Regions from separate parts of the Homo sapiens genome. Here region 2 is linked to region 1. Evidence: fine-mapped expression QTL. A gene starts in region 1. The other region holds a variant in brackets. All regions are shown on one strand. Distances are from middle to middle.

What was found.
Region 2: its variant is fine-mapped to the expression of RBPJ in whole blood (TOPMed, PIP 0.92).

What each region holds. Positions count from the first base shown.
Region 1 is chr4:26,314,774-26,326,154 of GRCh38, reverse strand. RBPJ (recombination signal binding protein for immunoglobulin kappa J region) reads right to left here and starts at 5,141. Exons shown (of 11, transcript NM_015874.6): 1 at 5,107-5,141. The coding sequence starts at 5,126. RefSeq lists enhancers at 3,764-4,685, 5,918-5,967, 7,058-7,107 and silencers at 4,798-4,897, 4,968-5,097, 6,568-6,837.
Region 2 is chr4:26,071,914-26,083,294 of GRCh38, reverse strand. LINC02357 (long intergenic non-protein coding RNA 2357) reads right to left here. Exons shown (of 3, transcript XR_925506.3): 1 at 11,275-11,381; 2 at 2,705-2,845. Among named protein-coding and RNA genes, the nearest start is that of LINC02357, 6.8 kb to the right of the region's middle. RefSeq lists enhancers at 1,916-2,095, 8,284-8,363. The variant G/A (reference allele first, on the strand shown) is at 6,760.

The DNA of each region.
Region 1 (11,381 bases):
CACACAAGCACACACACAATTTTAAAATTGTGCCACATGAACCATGTTGCACCAAGATTTCAAAGCACTGAGTCCTATGTTCAAAAATTCTTTTTGCTGAGTCTCTATCATGTGATAGACAATCTTCTAAGTATAAGAATATAAATGATACCTGCCACCAAGTGACAATATTTGGGTGTGATAATTACAACTTAGTATCATGCTTCCAAGAGAATTATATACAGCATTTAATACTGTATTAAATATACAGTATTTATACAGCCAGGCACCAACTGTAGTCTGGTAGATCTGGTTAGAATATTCCCTTAGTCTTGAGAAATAACCTACTAAGGATCATTACTTTTCATACACAAGAACGCATTAAACTGCTGGGCTCATGCAGAGATGTCAAAATACTTTAATATGACTGAAGCACTGATTATGGAGAGAAAATGGCAAACAACTCAGCTGGAGAAGAGACAGATGAAATAGTTATGGAGGATCCTATGCGCCACAGTAGCTAACATCTTTTGAGCACTTGCTACATGCCAGGAATTCTGCTAAATGCTTTCATACATTATCTCATTTAATCTTCACAACAACTTTCTGAGTTAGGAATAATTATCTTGCAATTGATAAAGAGATTAACTTGTCAATGTTACAGGGGTTTTAACTGGCAGGGGTTTTAAGTGCCAGAGACAGAATTGGAACCCAGTTCAGATTAAACACTAAATGTGAGCTCATAACCCTCCACTCTGTTGCCTCTCTTAATGAACGCTGCTAGGGGGAGCCATTGAAAGGTTTTTAGATTAAGCAGTGATCAGATTTGCTCTTTAGAAAGACTGCTCTGCTACATGTAGAAGCTGGATAAAGGTGGTGACTCTAGAAGCAGAAAGAGGCTGTCAGTACGTCATAGTAAACCAGGTGAGAAATGACAGCATGAACTTCGGCAGTGAGGATAAGGGAAACAAATTCAAGAGATTTTTTAGAAGGAAAAATGATCAGTTCTCAGTAATTAAATGTAAAGGCTGGTGAGAGAGGAATTAGGAATCGTGGCTTTGGGAACCAAACGGAATATGGTATCATCTACCAAGAACAGAGAAGCAACAGGTTTCATTCAGTCAATACGTATCTACAGAGTGCTCCTCAAATGCAAAACACTTTTCTAAGGCCAAGAGTCAAATCTGAAATTATAGTCATGGTTATTAGAATTTATTCTTAAGAGCAAATAACAAAGCACTAAAAAATATAAGGCATATTTAAAATTAATCACTGCTATTAACAGACTTGGCTTAGAGTCCAGTGAAAGCATGTTGTACTACCATTTGTTAAATATTACTACATGCAGGCCAGGCATGGTGGCTCACCCCTGTAATCCCAGTACTTTGGGAGGCCAAGGTGGGCAGATCCCTTGAGGTCAGGAGTTTGAGATCAGCCTGGCCAACATGGCGAAACCCCATGTCTACTAAAAATACAAAATTAGCCAGGTATGATGGTGTACGCTGGTAATCCCAGCTACTCAGGAGGCTAAGGCACGAGGATCGCTTGAACCCAGGAGGTGGAGGTTGCAGTGAGCTAAGATTGTGCCACTGAACTCCAGCCTGGCCACAGAGTGAGACCCTGTCTCAAAAAATAAAATAAAATAAATAAATAGAATATTGCTACATGCAGAAAACAAAAGAGGAAAGGCATCCCATAATTTTATAATGTTATTACATTTGAGTTTGACAGAACTTCAATCTCTTACACCACACACACACACACACACACACACTCACACACGACACATCACCCTGTAATTTGTTTTATTTGTCCCTTTCCCTATAAGTTTATGGGGGGCAGGAATAAAGGTATCTGTTTTATTACCCATATTATAATACATATTTGGGATTTTAAAAAATCCCACTATCGCTACTGTGTCTTGCCAAGAACTTAAAAACCTCCTATTTGACTTCCTATAAAATATGACCTACTTCACATTAGCTTATTTCAGTAACAATTCCTAGACCTTCCCCACAGTTTTCATCCAAGGATGCTCTCTGCGAATCTTAAGGCACAGCAATCCTGTGCAGATGTGGCAAGTTATTATAATTCCCATTTTACTACATAGTTAGGAAACTGGCCCAGGGGAAGTAGAGTAACTTGGAAATAATCACAAAGCCAGATGCCAAAAATAACAACTTTTAGTCAATCCATGAGAAAATACTGCCCCTAGTTGAGATAACATGAAATTTAGTATTAGGAGGAAGCAAAATGCAAAATAATGCTTTAAAGCCAAGTCCTGGGTCTTATTTCTAAAAATGAACAGAAGAATGAGATGTATAATAACTTTCAAACGAAACAATTTTTTCCTAATGCCTTACCCATCAAGGGTGCCAAAGGTTATTTAATGAATTACATCTGGCAAGAATGGCCTGTCAACCAAACCAATTTTGATCTTACCCACTTAAAAAAAACATTGATAGAAATCTGTTGGTATAGGACAACAGATAACTTTTTAACAAACCTAACTGCTTAAAATCTAATGCCTACAAGTGTGTATTAGTACAGATTTGAAAATATTGCAAGTCTCCTGTTTTCTGAAAATATACTCACAGATCCATCAGCAATATGCATGGATAATAAAATTTAAAGCTTTAACAGTTAATACTCAGAATGAAAGTTCTCCAGCCACAACGCATCCAGATTTCGAAATATGCTGCTGTTATAATTTAATTAAAAGCAGTTTTATTTCACCAATCATGTAAGTAAAAGTATTACACGATTTAGAAAGAAAAACGCAACTCAAATGGTAAAAGCGCTTTTATCATGTCTGTGTAATCATTCTTACAGGTACAAGTCAGAGCAAAATACCTTCCATTACTACACAGTATTTACACTTTGCTCCCAGTCAGAGAACCAGTGAGCTCAAGATTTTACCTTCAAAACAATGATTATGTACAAGAACAAGTAAGGGAGACATAAGATTATTGGTAAAACCCACTCAAGCGACCCAGACTGCAGATTTTCACAAAAAAACTTATGTATCAATCATGAAAACATGGTTTTCCATTAATTAAAACTCAAACTACTAATTCTAATCACAGCCAGAAAAAAAAGTATTTTCCAATGCTCCAATACTCGTTAGAGTAGATCTCGTATGTCCCCTATCAACAACACTTCACTATTGTAGAACTTCAGTTTGTAAATGAAATGACACTCCAAATGATTTTATGGGTAACATACCTTCTAAAAGTAGAGATCAACCAGTAGAAAAAAAACAAACTCTTGAAGAATACCTTCAGCATAGTAATCCTGGTAAATATAATAACTCTTATTCCTAGCACCCAGAATAACTCAAGTCATTAGAATACATCACACCACACCCCCCACCCCCATTCACACAACCCCAAGCTTTTAGCATTACCAAAACAATAAGAACTCGAAACACTTCAAGGGTTCTTTAACACTAGGAAGTGTCTTTAAAATAATCTCACTACAGGCTATTACGTGTGTGTGTGTATATATATATATAATATACATATTATACGTATACTTTTTAACTGCATTTGATTAATATCTTCCACAAAGATCTTAGAAGCAGTATTCATCGACCAGAAACTGCACTCTTCGGTGCTGTCCTCATTTCAACCCCAATGATGGGACAGAAGGGTTGTCACGCATCTACAGGGCAGCAAAAAGCACATAACTGTAAACTATCTAATGATTAAGAAAAAATAAAACATTTATATAAAATTCCCAAGCGGAATGCCTCTCCTTTTCCTTATGAGGCAGAAGTTACTGATAAATTCTAAATCCAGATTTCTAGAAAATGCTGAAATTCTCCGCCCCAACACTCACAAGTTTTTAACATGGAAATTCACTCAACTCCTACTCACACGCCAAATGAATATCCATTGTGGCTATCTGAAACTATTCTCAAACACTAACAGAAAAACACATATATACATCTTGAGCCTCCTTCTAACCGTCCTACGATACCCTCCAATCATCCTCAGGCAGCCTAGATTGCAAAGCTTCGACAGACAGCTGCCCTTGGCCTACGCCGTCAGGAACCAGGAGGGGGGCGGGGGCCGGGGGGCGCAAGAACCACCAAGAGACCAGATCTTTTTCCAAGGCTACTGTTTCCAAGCAAAACAACCCACGGCACTAAAAAGACGGCGATGAAAATTGGAGACGCTTTAATCCCGAGAGAAAGGGGTGGCGATAGGGGGGCGGGAGGGTACAAGAAATCCCGAGAAAAAGAGGTGCGGAGGAGAAAACTAAGTATCCCATGCATCTTTCAGACCCACAAAACAACAAACCGTAGAGTCTTGTGTGCACTTAGAAGCAGCAGATGGAGTCCCCGGGGCTGAGACAGTTCAGCAGACGTACACCGTGGGTTGTGGATAAATCAACCGATGACGGGAGAGGAAGGGGGTGCCGAGAGAATAAGCCCGTGGATGGGGGAGACAAAGCCTCGGGGGGTGATCCAGGACCATACAGAAAGGTGAGAGGGGACCCACAGGAGAAAGACAATGGAAGAACAATTAAGGCAGAAATCTGGTGCCCGGGCTGTGGCAGGTCACTGGGCTAACGACAAGAGTGTGGCACAACAAAGGGGCACGGGAGGAAGGACAGCGGAGGGGAGGAGATGGAGAGGGGATGCGGGACGCCACGGGTCGGACAAAGCGCCCAAGGCGGCGAAACAAAGGGCCGGGGGTAGAGAGTCGCAGCGGGTAGCGGTGAAAGACAAAGCGCCCGGGGCCGGGGGCACTAGCGGGGCGAAGCGGCGACAACGGCCGCGAGGAACAAAGATGCACGGGGCCCCCAGGCAGAGCCCGCTGGAGGCGCGCGGGAGGCACGGCGCCCGAGGGCCCCGCGCGCCCTGCCGCACTCACGCCCGCACCCGCCGGCCTCGCCGCCGCCGCCGCCGCCCGCCCTCACGCGCTGGAGCCTGAGCCACGGCAGCGCAGAGCGGCAGCGCACGGCCACACGCCGCCGCCGCCGCGCTCGGCGCACGCGACGCCGCCCCCGCGGGCCCCCGAACGCCAAGCGCGCCGCGGCCCCCGAACCCGCTGCCCGCCGTGAGCTGCCAGACGCCCGCAACTTTCCCGGTTCCCGGCGCTCCGATTCCCTCAGACTTACCCTGTCACAACAGGCGCCATCTTCCACAAACTCTCGCCAAAACTCCAACCCTCGCGAGATTCCCCCCGACGCCTTCCCTGGTCCCTCTCCCCCGCCCCTTCCCTTTTTCCTCACTCCTCGATTCCACCCAGCCCCCGCGCTCCCTTTCCCCTCGCCGCCGCCGCGAAGAGCCAGACGCCTCGCGCCGCCCGCAGAGTAGGGGATCCTGCTCGCTGCCTTCCCTGGAAACCTACCCAGGCGATGGAGCATGCGCAGGCGGCTCCTCCGCGGGCGAGCCCTCCGTGTGGTCCATGGGGAGCGCTCCGGTTATCCGGGTTTTAGGACGCGCTTTGAGGGACGTACGTGGAGACTGAGGAAAACCGGAGGGGATTACTACGGGGACGAGGAATGGAGGGGTCAGGAGGCGGGGCCGAGGAGAAGGGAGGAGGGGTCCTGGGAAAATGGGCTGCGTTTCACAGGCCTAGATGAAACACCTCCTCAATGGGTGTTTTCCAAGCGGCTTCCCGCTCACTCTGGGTTCCCAGCTATTTTCATTCATTCAAACGTTCCCTGGGCGCCTCCTTTATGCTAATCTCGGCGTTTGGTGCAGGAGCGCCAGAGATGTCTGGGGTTCGGGCAAGTGACACGTCGGGGACTGTCTTCATTCATTACACCCCCCCATGCTAATGAGGAGGCCCTTCCAGAGCTCCTCAAGCGGAAAACTTTTGCAGTTGAGCTCTCTCGCCTTAGCGTTCTCCTTGGGTGTGAAATGAGGTCAAGCCAAGGCCTCTAGCAAAGACACCCCTAATGGCCACCTCGCAGACACACGCCAGAGCGCGGAGTAGTTCTCTCCAGAAGGGAAAACTGCCTTGGAATTGAGAGCCACATTCTCCCACCTCCGAGTCTGCCCAGAGGACCCGATCAAAGCTCTTGCCGCTCGCGTGCTGCATGGCCTCTCTAAGACCCCATCGCAGCCACCACCGTGTGTGAGCCCAGGTGTGTGTTGAGACCACTACTGCACAGGGAACCGGGCCACCCGAGGGCCTGGCACAGCCGAGGACGCTGCCGGCTGCCCGAATCGCGCTTCAGGCGGCCTGATCCCGGAAGCCCCCGGGCAAACCTGGCCCCACCGGGCATGGAACAGCAGGGTGAAGGGCCCGAATCCCGCCCCCTCCTCCTACCTGCAGCCCCCCATCTTTCCCCTCCTTTGCTCTTTCCTTTCCTAGAGATTCCCAGATCCAGCACTGCCTCCCGCAGGGAGCCCCAAAACCCGGAGAACTGGAATTCGCCGCCCGAAACCTGTTGAAGGCGCTGCAGGATTGGCGCGGCCCGCGCGAGCGGCACTGCGCATGTACCCAATGCGGGCAGTCCAGTCTCACGCTACACCTCCTTCCCACCGCCTTCCACTACTCGGCTCAGACACAACACGGCCGTGGGAAATTTCCTAAACCTCGCGAGAACGTGCCCCTGTTGCCTAAGCTTTCGCCCCAAATCTCGCGGAGCCAAGGCAGGACAGGTGTTTGCCTAGACCAGCTCCGGGCGCCGTTCGTGCAGCGCGTGCCCGGGAGGCGGGCGGCGGGCGGCGGGCGCGGGCGGGGTGGGAAGGGAGCGGCTTGCCGCGGAGGCGGGGCGGGAAGGCGCGTGGCTGGGAGCACGGGGCGGAGGGCGGCGGGGGAGGAGACCCGCGTCTCGCACACAACACGCACACGCCCTGTGACGCTGGATGGAAGACGAGGGGTGGGGAGCCTCGAACGGAGGAAGGGGAAGCCAGGAGGTTGGAAGTCGCTGCCGGTACGGAGAGTGAGAGGTCAGGCTCTAGGGCAGGAGGAGCCCCAGGCCGATCTCCCGGGGAGGTTTCCTGTCGCCCTCCACAAGCCTGGTACTTTCCTAAAACGTGTTAGACACCGCGCCCCCCGCCTCCGGGAGCTGACAGACAGCCTCCAGAGTCGGGTTTGAGTCATGCCTTGAGTCACCTAGTCTGGCCACTACTTCGCTTACTTTGAAACAAGTTCTGATTCCTTAGCTACTCTACTTTAGCAATTGGTTTCTTTTTTTTTTTTTTTTTTTTTTTTTGAGACGGAGTCTTGCTCTGTCGCCTAGGCTAGAGTGCAGTGGCGCGATCTCGGCTCACTGCAAGCTCCGCCTCCTGGATTCACGCCATTCTCCTGCCGCAGCCTCCTGAGTAGCTGGAACTACAGGCGCCCGCCACCACGCCCGGCTAATTTTTTCTATTTTTTAGTAGACGGAGTTTTACCATGTTAGTCAGGATGGTCTCGATCTCCTGACCTCGTGATCCGCCCGCCTCGGCCTCCCAAAGTGCTGGGATTACACGTGTGAGCCACCGCGCCTGGCAGCAATTGGTTGTTTTCTTTCTAATCTACCCGCTGGCCCTGTGAGCTGGGTAGAAAAATAAATAAATAAATAAATAAACAGCTCTGCGCTCTCGCCTTGTTGCCTTGTATAGATTCTTGCTCCCGTTTAAGGACACGATTTTTAAAATTTCTTGTCAGTCTCTTCTTAGCCTTTTGAAGTAATCTTACAAATCAGTTTCTGTTTTTTCCTCCCACTAATATGGCTTTTTTGCTTTCCGTCACCTTTCCGTATTTTTATTGCAATATTCCATTTTACGTATGGCTGCGGCAGGTGCTATAGTGACTACTGTTTTAAATGCAGCCCTTCCTTTTGGATCATTCATCCAATGAGTTCCTGATTACGTAAATTCTTCAATCAGCCACGTTTCAGATTGGCCCTGATGTGGTTTCTATACCAGCCTTAGCCTGGCATTATCTAGGAACCAGTGTCTTCCTGCTCACGTCACAGCCCCGCAAATGTAGAGTTGAATTGAATTTTGATATTTGGAGGACAGTGAGTTCTCTAATAGGAAACCCTGGTTTTTAAGTTGTTTTCAAGGTTTTAGGGGTGTGTGTGTGTGTGTGTGTGCGTGTGTGTGTGTTTGTGTTTGCCTATTGATTATATACACAAAAAAACAGACTTAAAACCATTTGGTGCAATATCTCAGTGCAAGTCTGGCTTGGAACAGGATAGCTCAGGAGGAGGACAAAGCCCTTGGGGCACATATTCCTTGGAGCTGTCATCCCAAGAAGGTATTTCAGTCATGGCCTAGTCCAGACCACTGATCTAATTTGGAATCATGGCCTTCTGAGAGCCCCAGCGACCTTGGGAAGCCATGGTAACCACAAAGGGAATAACAGCTCCCCCTTTTTGCCCTAAAACATGCTCCATCTGCAGCCCTCCCCCATCTCAGGAAAGGACAACTCCATTCTTCCACTTATGTCAAGAACCTTGGAGTCCTTGCCTCCTTTCTCACACCCAAGATACAATTGGACGGAAAATCCTATTGGCTCCACCTTCAGAATATACTCACATTCCAAATACTGTCACACCTCTTTAGCTACTAGCCTAGTCTAACCCATCTTATTTCCCACCTGGTTTAAGGAAGTTCCCTAACTGGTCCTCCCTTCTTCCGTTCTTGTCTTCCCGCAGTCTGTGCTAATAGAGCATTCTCAGTGGCCCTCTAGAACTCCTCCATGACTTTCCCATTTCACTATGAGGACTTAGACAATCTTGCCTACTGCCAAACCCCCCCTGATCTATCTGCCTTCACCTCCTCCTCTACCTCTCACTCTGTGGGCTCTCACCAGTTGCCTTCCTTACTGTTCCTGGGATGCCCCAAGCACACTTTCAGCTCCAAGCCTTTGCTTTTTCCACTACCTGGAATGCTCTTCCCTCATATACCTTATAGCTCATTCCCTCACTCCTTTCTTGTCTTTGCCTGATGTCACCTCCTCAGGGAGGCCTTCCCTGACACCCTTCCCAAGAGGGACTCCCATACTCCTTATCCCCCTTTCTGCTTGATTTTGTCCATGGCACCTATCATTAACTAACATAACATTTATCATACTTGTGTGTTGTGTTTACTATCTGCCTCCTTCCATTATAATGTAATATTAATAAGGGCAAGGACTTTTGTCTAGTTTGTTCATTATTCAAGCCTTAGCTGCTGGAACAATGCCTGCTGTATTATATTTGTAGAATGAATGGGGTGTCTTCCACTTTAGGGCAGAGTAAAAATGATTCTGAAGACTAAGCCTCCTAGGGTTCAAAACAATATTAGGACTAGACTAGCAGTGAGTACTAGCCTGCCTAGGGAGGAGAAAAAGGCATATGGAGCAACCACCTGTGTTGGTTTTTTGCAAAAAAAAAAAAAAAAAAAAAAAAAAAGTCGTCTGGGTTAGACCAGTAGATGAGGCTGCACTTAAGAGTTTCCTTTACTCTCCATTTTAGAACTTCAGGAAAAAAACAACAAAAACACCACTAGCCGGATATGTGTGTGTGTGTATATATATATATACACAATATGTGTATATATATATATGTGTATATATATATATATCAATATGTGTATATATATATCAATATGTGTATATATATATCAATATGTGTATATATATATTATATATATGAATGTATATATATGAATGTGTATATATATGAATATATACATGAATATATATATGAATATATATATGAATATATATGAATATATATGAATATATATATGAATATGTATATATGAATGTATATATGAATGTATATATGAATGTATATGAATGTATATATGAATGTATATATGAATGTATATATATGAATGTATATATGAATGTATATATATGAATGTATATATGAATGTATATATGAATATGTATATATGAATGTATATATATGAATATGTATATATGAATGTATATATGTGTATATGTATATATGAATGTGTATATATATGAATATATATATATATATATGTTGCGGGAAGTCAGGGACCCTGAACGGAGAGACTGGTTGGAGCCACTGCAGAGGAAGATAAATTGTGAAGATTTCATGGACATTTATCACTTCCCTAATAATACTCTTATAATTTCTTATGCCTGTCTTACTTTAATCTCTTAATCCTGTTATCTTCATAAGCTGAGGATGTACGTCACCTCAGGACCACTGTTGTACAAATTGATTGTAAAACGTGTGTTTGAACAATATGAAATCAGTGCACCTTGAAAAAGAACGGAATAACAACGATTTTAGGGAACAAGGGAAGACAACCATAAGGTCTGACTGCCTGCGGGGTGGGGCAAAAAAAGCCATATTTTTCTTCTTGCAGAGAGCCTATAAATGGACTTGCAAGTAGGAGAGATATTACTAAATTTTTTTCCTAGCAAGGAATATTGATAATCAATACTCTGGGAAAAGAATTGCATTCCTGGGGGGAGGTCTATAAACGGCTGCTCTGGGAGTGTCTGTCTTATGTGGTTGAAATAAGGACTCAAATATGCCCTGGTCCCCTGCAGTACCCTCAGGCTTATTAGGGTGGGGAAAAAATCCTGCCCTGGTAAATTTGAGGTCAGACCAGTTCTCTGCTCTCGAACCCTGTTTTCTGTTGTTTAAGATGTTTATCAAGAGAATACGTGCACAGCTGAACATAAACCCTCATCAGTAATTCTAATTTTGCCCTCTGCCTTGTGATCTTTGCTTTTGTCCTTGCCCTGTTTCCTCAGAAGCATGTGATCTTTGTTCTCCTTTTTGCCGTTTGAAGTATGTGATCTTTGTGAACTACTCCCTGTTCGTACACCCCCTCCCTTTTTGAAATCCTTAATAAAAACTTGCTGGTTTTGCAGCTCAGGTGGACATCACAGACCTACCAATATGTGATGTCACCCCCGGCGGCCCAGTTGTAAAATTCCTCTCTTTGTACTCTTTCTCTTTATTTCTCAGACCAGCCAACACTTAGGGAAAATAGAAAGAACTTACATTGAAATTTCATTACATTGAAATTGGGGGTGGGTTCCCCAGTATATACATACATATATATATATATATATATATATATTTTTTTTTTTTTTTTTTTTTTTTGAGACAGAGACTAGCTCTGTCACCCAGGCTGGTGTGCAGTGGCACGATCTCCGTGCTCTGCAACCTCCCCCTCCTGGGTTCAAGCAGTTCTCCTGCCTCAGCCTCCTGAGTAGCTGGGATTACAAGTGCCCACTACCACACCCGGCTAATTTTTGTATTTTTAGTGGAGACGGGGTTTCACCATGTTGGCCAGGATGTTCTCAAACTCTTGATCTCATGGTCTGCCCACCTCAGCCTCCCAAAATGTTGAGATTACAGGCGTGAGCCACCGCACCTGGCATAGATATCTTCATGAGCTGCTAGTGGGAGTGAAAATGGATATAACATCTATGGAAACTATATTAGTCTGTTCTTGCACTGCTATAAAGAAA
Region 2 (11,381 bases), 240 kb after region 1:
AAATAAAAGCTCAATTAAGAACGTTTTCTCCACCAGAAAGCGGGGCCCCCACAGACTAATTTGGGTTTCCATTTTTAGCAGCACAAAGAATTGGCAGAAGCTTTGAAATTGCAGTTCTTCCTCAAAGACGCCCAAGAGCCCAGATCCAATTCTGAGGCAGAATCAAAGTTCACCTACTGAATTTCCCTCCTCTTACTTCCATGACAGGGAAAGCTTTCCCCAAGCCCTCAGAGAACTTGATCTTTGTAAAGTAGAAGATGCAATTCTTCTCCCAGTAATCAGCACTGGGTGACTTTGATCAAGAAGGTTAACTGGTCTGAGTGTTGGACTCCCTAGCTATAAAATAGAATTAATAATACCTTTTCGCCATAGGGTTATTGTAAGAATATTTAAAGAAAGAACTTAAGAAAAGTGTCTGGCTTGGTGTGTGGCACACAAAATACGTTCATTACTTCTTCCTTTCATTGTATGATTAAGCAATAGTTTGCTTTGTTGCCTTATACAAGGATTATAATATAGTTCTAAGGATTATCTGAAGTTCAGAAACTGGTTAGCGAAGATACACTGAGCTCTCAACAAAGTCAACATGCACTGCATTATAGAGTGTTCTCTTGGCTCCATATCTGCACATGCCTGTAATTATTTATTTGAGATGAATTCCCAGATATGGAATTCGTGGTCAAGAGGTACATACATTTTTAGGACTGCCGCTATACATTGCCAAATTGCCTGACAGAAAGTCTGTGCCACAGACTTCTTACCTCCCCCACAGAATTGTGTCCGAGAGCCTATTTCTTGAAATCTTGAGTTTTTCCTCAAAATGTATTAGCTTGATGGGAGAAGAGCGGTTGTGGAATTGTTTCTCAAACCTGGAAAACAAGCATCCCACAAACCCAACTCACTTATTTTAAAAATGAAGATCCTAAGACTCAGAGAGATTAAGTGACTTGGCGAATTCATCTAATTAGTAAGACAGCCAAAATCCATACCCCATGTTTCCTAATGCTGGAATTCTTTCCATTATACCACTCCAGAGAGAGAGTGTTAGCCCTGAGGTGAAACCACTCAGGGACTGCTTAATAACAAAGTTCAATTAGACCAGAGGGAAGGCGCTGTAGAGAAAAGTGCTAATGCAGAGAGCTTTAATTAGTGTCTGGCTAATTCATCCTCAGATAAGTACAGTGTAGTGTTTGTGTTAGCACCACCTACTGGTGAAAATTTAGACTTGTACAGGATTCCTTTTATGGAGTTGCAGGTAGAATGGGAAAAATCTCCGGAAGATTTGGACTGCTTTAAACTGTCTTATTCTAGAAAGAAGTCGGTAGAAAAATGAGTAGGTATGGAGTCATTGAGTCATGAACCATAAGGACTTCAACTTCTGTGGTCTCAGAATTGCTGTGAATGAAGTTCCAATTTCCTGCAGCAACAAAGTCAGTTTCCTGTTCTTCCTATCGGCTATGTAGAATGTAAACCTCTTCATTTTTCTATAACCTAATTTCTAGTTTAAGTCTACATTCTTCTAGTGGCAGGAAACTTAATATATAGTGTCTTCCTGGTAAAAATCACTCACTTCAGTGTTTATGCAGTCATGCCGGTTTCAGTCACTCAATTCAAAATTTCATGCCCTTCCCTTCTTCTTGGGGTTGCTGGTAAGATCCTGGAAATATAGGATGGTGTAGGTGTAGAAAACGGGGTTCTGGGGGACTGAGAGAGGGATGGGGTGGTATGGTCCACAGGCATCCTTAGCCTGAAGCAGACCTGGTCTTTGGCCATCAGCACCTATGCGTAGTGGCACCCAGGGGCCATACTTGGAGGCTGCCAAGTCCTCCATTGTTAGAAAGCCCTCCATCTCCACTGTATCTTCTTGTCCCAACCTCAAGCTCTGCTCAGGTCTGCGGCCCTCTTTTGGCCATTTTGTGCCCATTTTGGAGGCAGGAGCAAGGGAAACTTTAGGATGCTCTCTTACATGGGCCTGGCTGTGACAGATCGGGGGCTTTCCTGGGGCCTCCCCACTGCTTTGCTCTGTTGCGCTCTCTTCTCCACTATGGCCAGCATACAACGCAGGGGATGGCAAACTATGCCCTGTAAAGGGCCAGACAGCACGTATTTTAGATGAGTACTCCACTCTGTTACTGTAGCACAAACGCTGCCACAGGCAATAGATAAATGAACGGGCATGGCTGTGTTCCAATAAAACTTCACTTACAAAAGGAAGTGGCATGCTGCATTTGGCCCTCAGGGCCCTTGATGATCTCGGTATGTATCTGTGCTGTTCTCCCCTAACTCCAGGCGTCTCCCGTAGATCAGGGCACACATTCTCAGGTCTTGGCATTACTAAACCTATCTTGATGATTTATCACCCGCTACCCCACTTCAGAAAATCACAAGACGAGGGAGCAGGCAAAGTGCAGGACCCCTCAGGGCTATGTCAGCATCTTCTTCTTCCCTTCTCCTCTTTCCCTAGCTAGAGCAACCATCCTTTCCTCTCTTTCCATTCTCTTGTTTGTAGTATAAACTTTTATGTCGTGCTTACGTGGGGCTTAGCCTTTAGATTTGATCACACTTTTCTATCACAAACCTTGGCTATGGAGGACCCACCCAATCTCTGTAATAAGAGTCAAGAGCCTAAATGATTCAAAGTCAAGAACTTGACATTTGTTCTGTGTTCTTCATAATCCCTCCCTTCCCTGTGAGTAGTGGATACCTGGAGTGACTGGGAATATGGTCCCATGATGTCCTCTAACCCTTGCTAAGTTCTGGGCTTTGACCAAGCCTCAGCCATACTCTGAGGGCAGCTGGATTCAGGTAAGTTTGCTGGTCTGGTATTTGTTCCTCTGTCTTTATCCTATGAGGAAATAAGAAGAGTAAGGTTAACTTGACATTGTTAAAAAAACTGCTCACTCACATGAATAGAAATGAATCCTTTTGGGGCAAAACCATTTAGAACAGAGCGTTTCAAACTGCAAATTGCAACCCTTTAGGGTAGGGGTAGGCAATTTTTTTTCAGTAAGGGCACAAATTGTAAATATTTTAGGTTTTGTGGGCTGTACTCAACACGCAACTCTCAACTCGCAACTGCTCAACTCTGCCACTGTAGTGCGAAAATGATCAAAGACAATGGGTAAACAAGTGAGCGTGTCTGTCCTGTAATTAAACTATTTATGAATACTAAAATGTGAATTTCATATAATTTTCACCAGTCATGAGATATCATTCTCCTTTTGATTTCTTCCAACCACTTAAAAATGTAGAAAATTTTTAATCTTATCTTTTTAACTTTTATCTTATCTTTTTTATTTTATTTTTTGAGACAGAGTCTCAAAAAGTTGTATGGAGTGCAGTGGTGTGATCTCAATTCACTGCAACCTCTGCCTCCTAGGTTCAAGCAACTCCTGCCTCAGCCTGCAGAGTAGCTGGGACTATAGGCATGTGCCACCATGCCCAGCTAATTTTTCTCTTTTTACTAGAGACAAGGTTTCGCCATGTTGGCCAGGCTGGTCTCAAACTCCTGGTTTTAATGCAATCTGCCCACCTTCGCCTCCCAAAGTGCTGGGATTGCAAGTGTGAGCCACCGCGCCTGGCCAAAAATGTAAAAAACATTTTTAGCTTACAAGCCTTACAAAAAGAGGTGGTTAGTTAGATTTAGCCCTGGGCCATAATTTGTTGACCCCTCAATTAAGGGGGTCATGAAATCAGTTAAGTGATACTGGACAAAGAATTTTTTTAAAAAGAAATAAGATAAAGTAGAATGAAGGAGACAAAATATCAGAATATACTGTACACAAAAAAGGTTTTGTAAAATGTTGATTTCAGTTAATACACATTTGTGTGTATTGCACTGTGATGCAAAATGTATTTCTTGCTGTGGAATGTGGCTGGAAAAAGTTTGAAAATCAATTTGGAGAAACATTTCTTTCAGTGTGACATTTTTATTTCCAAAGAGTTATGCCTTTGTTTATTCCACACACCTTAAGATTTGATGTTAGTGTTGCCAGATAAAATATAGGACACTCAGTTAAACTTGAATTTCAGATTAAAAATAAATAAATTTTTAGTATAACTATGTTCCATGCAATGTTTGGGAAATACTCATACTAAAAATTACTCATTTCTTATCTGAAATTCAAATTTGACTGAGTATCCTGTCTGTTTTTCTAAACCAGACAATCCTATGTGGTATATTACAATTGGTTATTATTATTATTGTAATGATCTTAAAACTCAGGTAGGGGCAGCCCAGTTCAGCTGGTAACTTAAGGGAAAATTGACATTTAACAGTTCTTCCTATATGCCAGGTTTTGTGCCCTCTCACAATTGCAGAAGCACTAGCCCTCACTACAGCCCTCTAGGAAAGGTACAGCTTTGTTATCTTCACTTTACAAGTGAGGAAACTGAGGCACAGTCTGACCTCAACAGGGGATTTAACAGTATAAGAGGGATGGTTCCAAGTCCTTGCCACACCACCAGGCTGTTGGGAAAGGCAAGCCCTGTGAAAGGGCCACCAGCTGTTCTTGGTCCTGGTGGTGCAGTCAGGAAGGCGGAGGGGACAGTGGGAGTGGCAATGAGGGTGCATTGTCCATGGAGTATTGAGCCCAGTGTAAAGATGATCGAAGTCATTTTATATTCACTATGCAATGCCAGTGATAACCTGTCCCCTCCCCATCGAGGCTGACTTCCCCACCCGCTTGACATGCCACTATTTGGCATATGATTGGTGCTCAGAAAATGTTACTTTCCTCTTTCTTCCTGCTCTTCTTTTCTCTACCTTGGCAAATGAGTTGCAAACCACTTGCCCATTCTGATTAGTAATGACAGCCTGGACTGCTGGATTGGGAAGGATTCTGGAGTTGAGTCTTTGCTCAGAGTAAATGAGTGCTGTGCTCTGGAGGCTCATCTGCTAGAGAGAGGTAAGAAGTGGGTACATAGATAGATACCACCTGCCACCCTATAGTTAAACGCTTTAACCTACAGAGCACAAGCAAGCATGCTGAGCAACGATTCCCCGCAAGCCCAAAACTCCTTCCCACTTAAGACAAAGTAAGAGAGGAAGAGGAAGAGAGTTTCTATCCATCACATCACCTTGTCCCACCCCCTCTAACACACGCAACTCCTGAGTGACCTGGAGCTAGATGCTGGAACACAGATTGGAGAGGCACAGGCAGGCTGGACAGGCAGGCAGGGCACAGGTTTGCTGGGCACCAAAGGCCAGAGGCAAGTTAATATCTCCCCTCCCACTGCCCTTCGCTGCCTGAAGCTTTTGCACTCGGCTCACCATAGTGTGACCAGGTGCCTCTGTTCACATGCGCCTTTTTGGAAGCTGTGGGGAGGAATGCCCTTCCTTGACTCAGTTATGTGCATGGCTGGAGGCAGGGCTACAAAAATAGACTGAAGGCAAGACTTTCCACTCTTCCATTTCCCCAAAAGTAGTTTCTTCTTGGACACAAACTGCCATCTTCTCTAAATTCCCAAATTGAGTAACCACTTGGAAGGCTTTCTTGTTTTTTTTTTTTTTCTTTTTTTTTTTCAAATGATTTTTCCAGCTGTAATTTTTCTTCAGTATGGAATTTTGCTCTTTCTGCCTTGAACTTCATTATAAATCCAAGTTTAAAATCAGAACTATTATAAATAGCCTTTGTGTACAGCAAGCGTTTGGGCATGCCATGTTTTAACCTTGAAGTAGCCTCCCATTTAGGTGGCTCTATAATTCCTCAGCTTGTCCGTTTATCCTCTGCCCCCCCAAATTGGAGGTAATATTAGAAAGGCCATGTGCGGGCACACCTTCAGATGAAAGGAGTTGATATATTTAAGCGCATGTTTAAGGTCAGAGAGAAGGAATGTTCAAAAGCATAGAAAGGTATTCGGATAGTTTCTTGGATATTTAATACCTTTGGCAACACCTTATTTTCTTGAATTAGGGTCTTGTGGGTCTAGAAATGGCTTCCAAAACTATTTAGTCAATTTCCTCTTGGGGAGCGGTGGTAGAAAGGGGCAATCCTTCCTCTTACAGCTCAGGCCAACTTTCTATTTTGTACAGAGGTGAGGATATTAGTCATGATATGAAGGAGAATCCACGACATTTTGATAATTCTGGCATATGTACATCCGAAAATTGCAAATTTAATTTTTCTTAGCATACCAGAGAGACGAGTCTTCAAGGAAATGGGTCTGACTCTTGAGCTTTGTTTGGTGTTGCTTTGGCCAAATGATTTGGTGAGTCACTTGTTATGGCTTTCCCTCGGGGTTCAGTGTTGTTTTTCACTGTGCCCTTAAAACCAACTTCTAGGCCACTTAGGTGTCTTGACCAGACTTTCTGGGGCCATATTAATTCCAACCTCAGAAATTTTGTTCCTGCTTAGATATCCCCAGGTTTTCTCTCCCCTACATCTATCCTTCTACACAATCCAGATTTCAAGGTCCCTTACAGATCTCAGGTCGGTCAAGCCATCCTTGACTTGTGAAAAACCCTGCGATTTCTCCCATCTTTGAATGCCTTTTGGGATCATCATCAATATCTAATCTTTGCACTTGATCTCTAAGAATCATCTACATTGTTTAAATTTTTCTTAAGGGAAAAGGCTATGTCTTACGCTTTTTCTATATTTTCCAAAACACCTGCCCCATGTTGGGCATGCCCCAATCAATACTGGATTGATAAATGATTGAGAAGTCTTCACTAGGCCTACAGTTCATGCATCTATAAACATGGAGCTTCCCTTTATCTTTGTAGGGTTTGACCAGAATTTGCCCCCAGCCTTACCC[G/A]ATTACAGGAAAAATAGTGTTCAAAGTAGGAAGCTAGTTCTGTGAATCCACATTTCCTTTGTTGGGCAATGATCTAGCTGCATGTGGCATAACATTTGCTGACACACAGTGTACTCACTCTTTTTTTTTTTTTTGGTCAGAAAAAGACTATTTCCATTCAAGTCACAAGTGGTGAAGGGTGGTGTGGTTTCTCTGTGACCTTAGGCGAGTCATTTCACCACCTTCAGCTGCAGTTTCCTCTTCTACAATTTTCCACCTCTAAGGTTGGCAGTTCTATGGTTTGGGGGCTGCTCAATGCTTCTAAGATCTCATCTAACAGATTTGTTTGCATGACAATGGGAAGGATTCTAAGGTTCAACTTCATTCTCCGCTCTGGATCTAATGTGGATGGATGGGGCCAGCAATGCTAGTAATTATTGGCTGGGACCTTCTCTCTGTATTAACCAGAGCTCCTTATATCATTCTAGCTAGCAGCTCAGAGCCTACCTTGAGGATGGCGGCATTAATCTGTCTGCTTAGGGACATCTAGACATTCTGCTAATCGTTCTTGCTACCACTATGGATATCCCTGATAGTGCAGAATCTTCTGCCTGTGGTTCTGTAAATGGGCCAAGTTAATTCTTCTGTTAGAGCCTTTGGAAAATTCAAGACAGGTACCAGTGACTAATAAAGTGACTAATAAAGGCTATATTAAATGCCCTTTCTCTTTCTTTTTTGTGGTTGATGCAACAACAAGATTGTCTAGTCTTGTTAGCCATAATTTTATAAGTTGTTGGCTTTGGTGATATATTTCTGCTTTATCATTTTAGGTGTCACATCTTGAGGACAGATGTCTTGTGTAAGACATGGGCTGATTTTCACTCGACAAAAATTGGCCCTTGTGTTAGAGGGAGAATAGAGGAAACCACTCTATTATTAGACTTTGAAATGAATGTTTATGGCCCTATAAAGTGACTAGCTAGTCTGCTGTCTGCCATGATTGAAGAGAGATCTAAAGCTAGGTCTAATTAAGAAATATCTATTATCTGATTGCTGTTGTGTTTAATAAGCTATTTAAAACAGAGAAATTATTTTGTGGAATTTAAAAAAGTGAGTTGATTGGATGCATCGGATTTGGACTTCTAAAGGATTTGCAGCATTTTTTCCTAAAAAGGCATTGTTCAGTGGGAAGTGACAGTGGGATTATTGCTCCTTGTTAAGTAAATTCAGCATGTGATTTATGTGCTTATATTTCCATGCACATTCAAGGAACCAATTCTCCTTTGAAATTTCCAAAATAGTGATGCCAAAAGAAAAAAAAAGAAGAAAGCGAGGAAGGAAAATCAGAGTTTCAGAAGAAAGTAAGCTGTTTGGATTAGAACTGAAACCACATGGGGTCCAGAAATCTTGTAATATTCTGCCCATTAAAAGTTCTTCTGCAAATAAATGTGCACATGCAAAAGTGGGGGTCGGAAAGCCATCCATTTGGATTCAGCAGCATGTCAGCCTAATTATACTAGACAATGCTGAGCTCAGTAATTCCACTTTTGATCCATTGCTGTGTGAAGTTCATTATTATCTGTTTCGAATTATTGTTCATTTCAAGAGCCGTACAATGAAAAAGCATGTCAAGACTGTGAAAGAGCCCTTGGCCTTCCCCGAAAGCTTTGTGAAACATTTCTTTGGAAACATTTCTGCTGAGATGGTGCATTGGCCGTGAGTGGGTGTAGGGGATGGGCGTCTGTGCTTCCCCTTTTCACATTTGTTTACCTTAAATACATCTCCATGGAAACAAGACCTGCTTCTGAGTTGACTTGAGGGTTGTCTGTAAGAGGAATGAATAGCAAAATATAGATAGCTAAAATTCTCATATAATCCAAAAAGGATCAGCCAAAGTGAGGGACACTAAGTGTCATTGAGCCCTCTTCAAGACTGATGATTTTAAATAAGGTTTCTCATGTAACGCTGAGAGGTAGACGGTATTGTCTCTGTTTTACAGATGAAGACCTTTAACTTCTAAATGTTTACTCAAATAGGAAGCGACAAACCCAGATTTGAACCCAGAACTGTCTGATTCTGATGCCCACGCTCTTTCTATAAAACCACATTGCCAGTCGTTTCACCCTTTCCTCCCACCTGCCCCAAGCATTTTCCAGAATTGTATAAAAATGGGCTACCCTTGATGTTTCCGTCTTTTGGGTGATTAAGTGCTTGGGAGGGAAAAGGTACTATGAAGAAAGAAAAACAAGCAGTCTGCATCATCTAAATGTGAAATCACCAACAGCAGCATAAACAATTGTCCCCTGTACTTCCGGAATCCCAGGCCAGGCCAGAAAAACCTCAATTTGCTAACAAAGCCTCAAGTAGGAAGGCCTCCATTTACCTAATTGTTGTCTTTGCTGCACTTTGAGGAGAAAACAAGACAGTGGACTGGAAAGAGCCCCAGAGATATGAGTTCAAATCTTGACCCCACCACTTATGACTTGCGGGACCCCCAGCCTCAAATGGGTAACTTCTCTGAGCCTCCAGTGTCAACAGGGTCTCTTGATGAGGCAGGATCTGGCCCAGGGTTTCCTGGTGGCCCATGGCAATAGGCAATACCCTTTACATATTGACTTAAGTCCACAATCTCTGTCTCAGATATATTAAAAATTTAGTTTGCAGACAGAGTCAACAAGGGTTGGGAAAGAACTCACACTGAGGAAATGGTCCTGTGTGGGGAGGTGGGCTCCAAAGCCAGGCCTGAGTGTTCAGGAGGCAGAATGGCCCTGGTACTATAATGTGGCTGGTACTGGATCTCAGCCTTACCCAGAATTTAAACAGGTTTGCCATAAATGCCATTGCACTAGAATTCTGGAACTGGTTGTGGGACCCCCTCACATCGACTGCAACTGATTGTAACATGAAAAGAGCACTTTCCTCTTTTTTTTTTTTTTTTGAGACAGGGTCTCACTCTGTCACCCAGGCTGGAGCTCAATGGCATCATCTTGGCTCACTGAAGCCTCAGCCACCAGGGTCCAATTGGTTTTCCTGCCTCAGCCTCCCAAGTAGCTGGGATTACAGGCGTCTGCCACCACACCTGGCTAATTTTTGTATATTTAGTAGAGACGGGGTTTCACCATGTTGGCCAGGCTGTTCTCGAACTCCTGACCTCATGCGATCTTCCCTCTTTGGCCTCCCAAAGTGCTGGGATTATAGGCATGAGCCACCACACCAGGCCTGCATTTTCCTCTTTATTTCACAGGTGACAAGATATCTAGCTTTGAGGTTCAGCTCTGATGGTACCCAAGAAATGGAGACAGCTGGAACCCTGAGTGACCCCTTCAATAGAACATTGAGGACTTGAAGCCAAAAATCCTAGCTCTGTGATCCATAGCTATAAGTGGACAACCAAGTAGGATCCGTGTTTAGGTGGTCCTGAGTTTTCTCATATGAAGGTATGATCCACTAAATATTGAACTTTCTCTGATCAAGGAAGTAGGGCTTTGGAGCCACTGAAATTTGTGTGGAGATAATAGTGAGAGTAGACCACACACATTGGAGAAGTTACCTTTTAGGTTATTGAAAAGATCAAGAGCAGTGCTGGCACAGAGTAGGACTTCAATAAATGTGAATTACCTTGATGTGTTTGGAGTACAAGCCCAAGTCGGCAAAAAATGTCCTGGATGCTGGACAAAAACCTCCATGGTGGCCCAGATCTCAAGGGGCATTAAGCCAAAGAGATCAGCTATCAGGGCGCAGTGCGAAAGAAACATTGACTCAGGAAGAGGAGACAAGGTGTCAATCTGGAAATTAGCTGGGAGGAGGCAGAACAAGAAAGGCAAGCCACGAGGCCTCCAACTGGAAGGGCAGGAGGAGACCCAGGGGTGCAGAGACTTAGCCAAAATTACACATTTATACAGAGCAAAGAAGGGACCAGAGCCTAATGGCTCTCTTCTCTTCCTTTAACTTACTATTATTATTATTATTATTATTATTAGAGACAGGCTGCAGTGCAGTGGCACGATCTCGGCTCACTGCAACCTCTGTCTCCCAAGTTCAAGCGATTCTCGTGCCTCAGCCTCCCAAGTAGCTGAGATTACAGACACATGCCACCATGCCTGGCTAATTTTTGTATTTTTAGTAGATGGGGTTTCACCATGGTGACCAGGCTGGTCTCGAACTCCTGACCTCAAATGATCTGCCTGCCTCAGCCTCCCAAAGTGCTGGGATTATAGGCATAAGCCACCACACCCAGCCTAACTTTAAACTTTGATACAATTTTAGACTCACAGAAAAGTTACATGAATAATAAAAATAATTCTCATAGGCCTACATACTTTTCACCCAGATTCCCCCAATGTTAACATTTTATCACTTTGCTTTATCCTGTATCTCGATCTATCTCCACATCTGCATCCTCACTAGTATTATATTTTTTCTGAACTGTTTGAGACACAATGTCCCTTTACATATTTCAGTGTGTATTTCCTAAAAATAAGAACATTCTCTGAATGTACAATGACAAAATTCAGGAAATTAACATTGATACAATACCTTTATCTAGTAAACAGGCCTTATTCAGATTTCACCAATTGTCCCAATACTGTCCTTTAAAGAACAGCATTTTGCTTTAAAGCAAAAGATAATCCCACATCATGCAT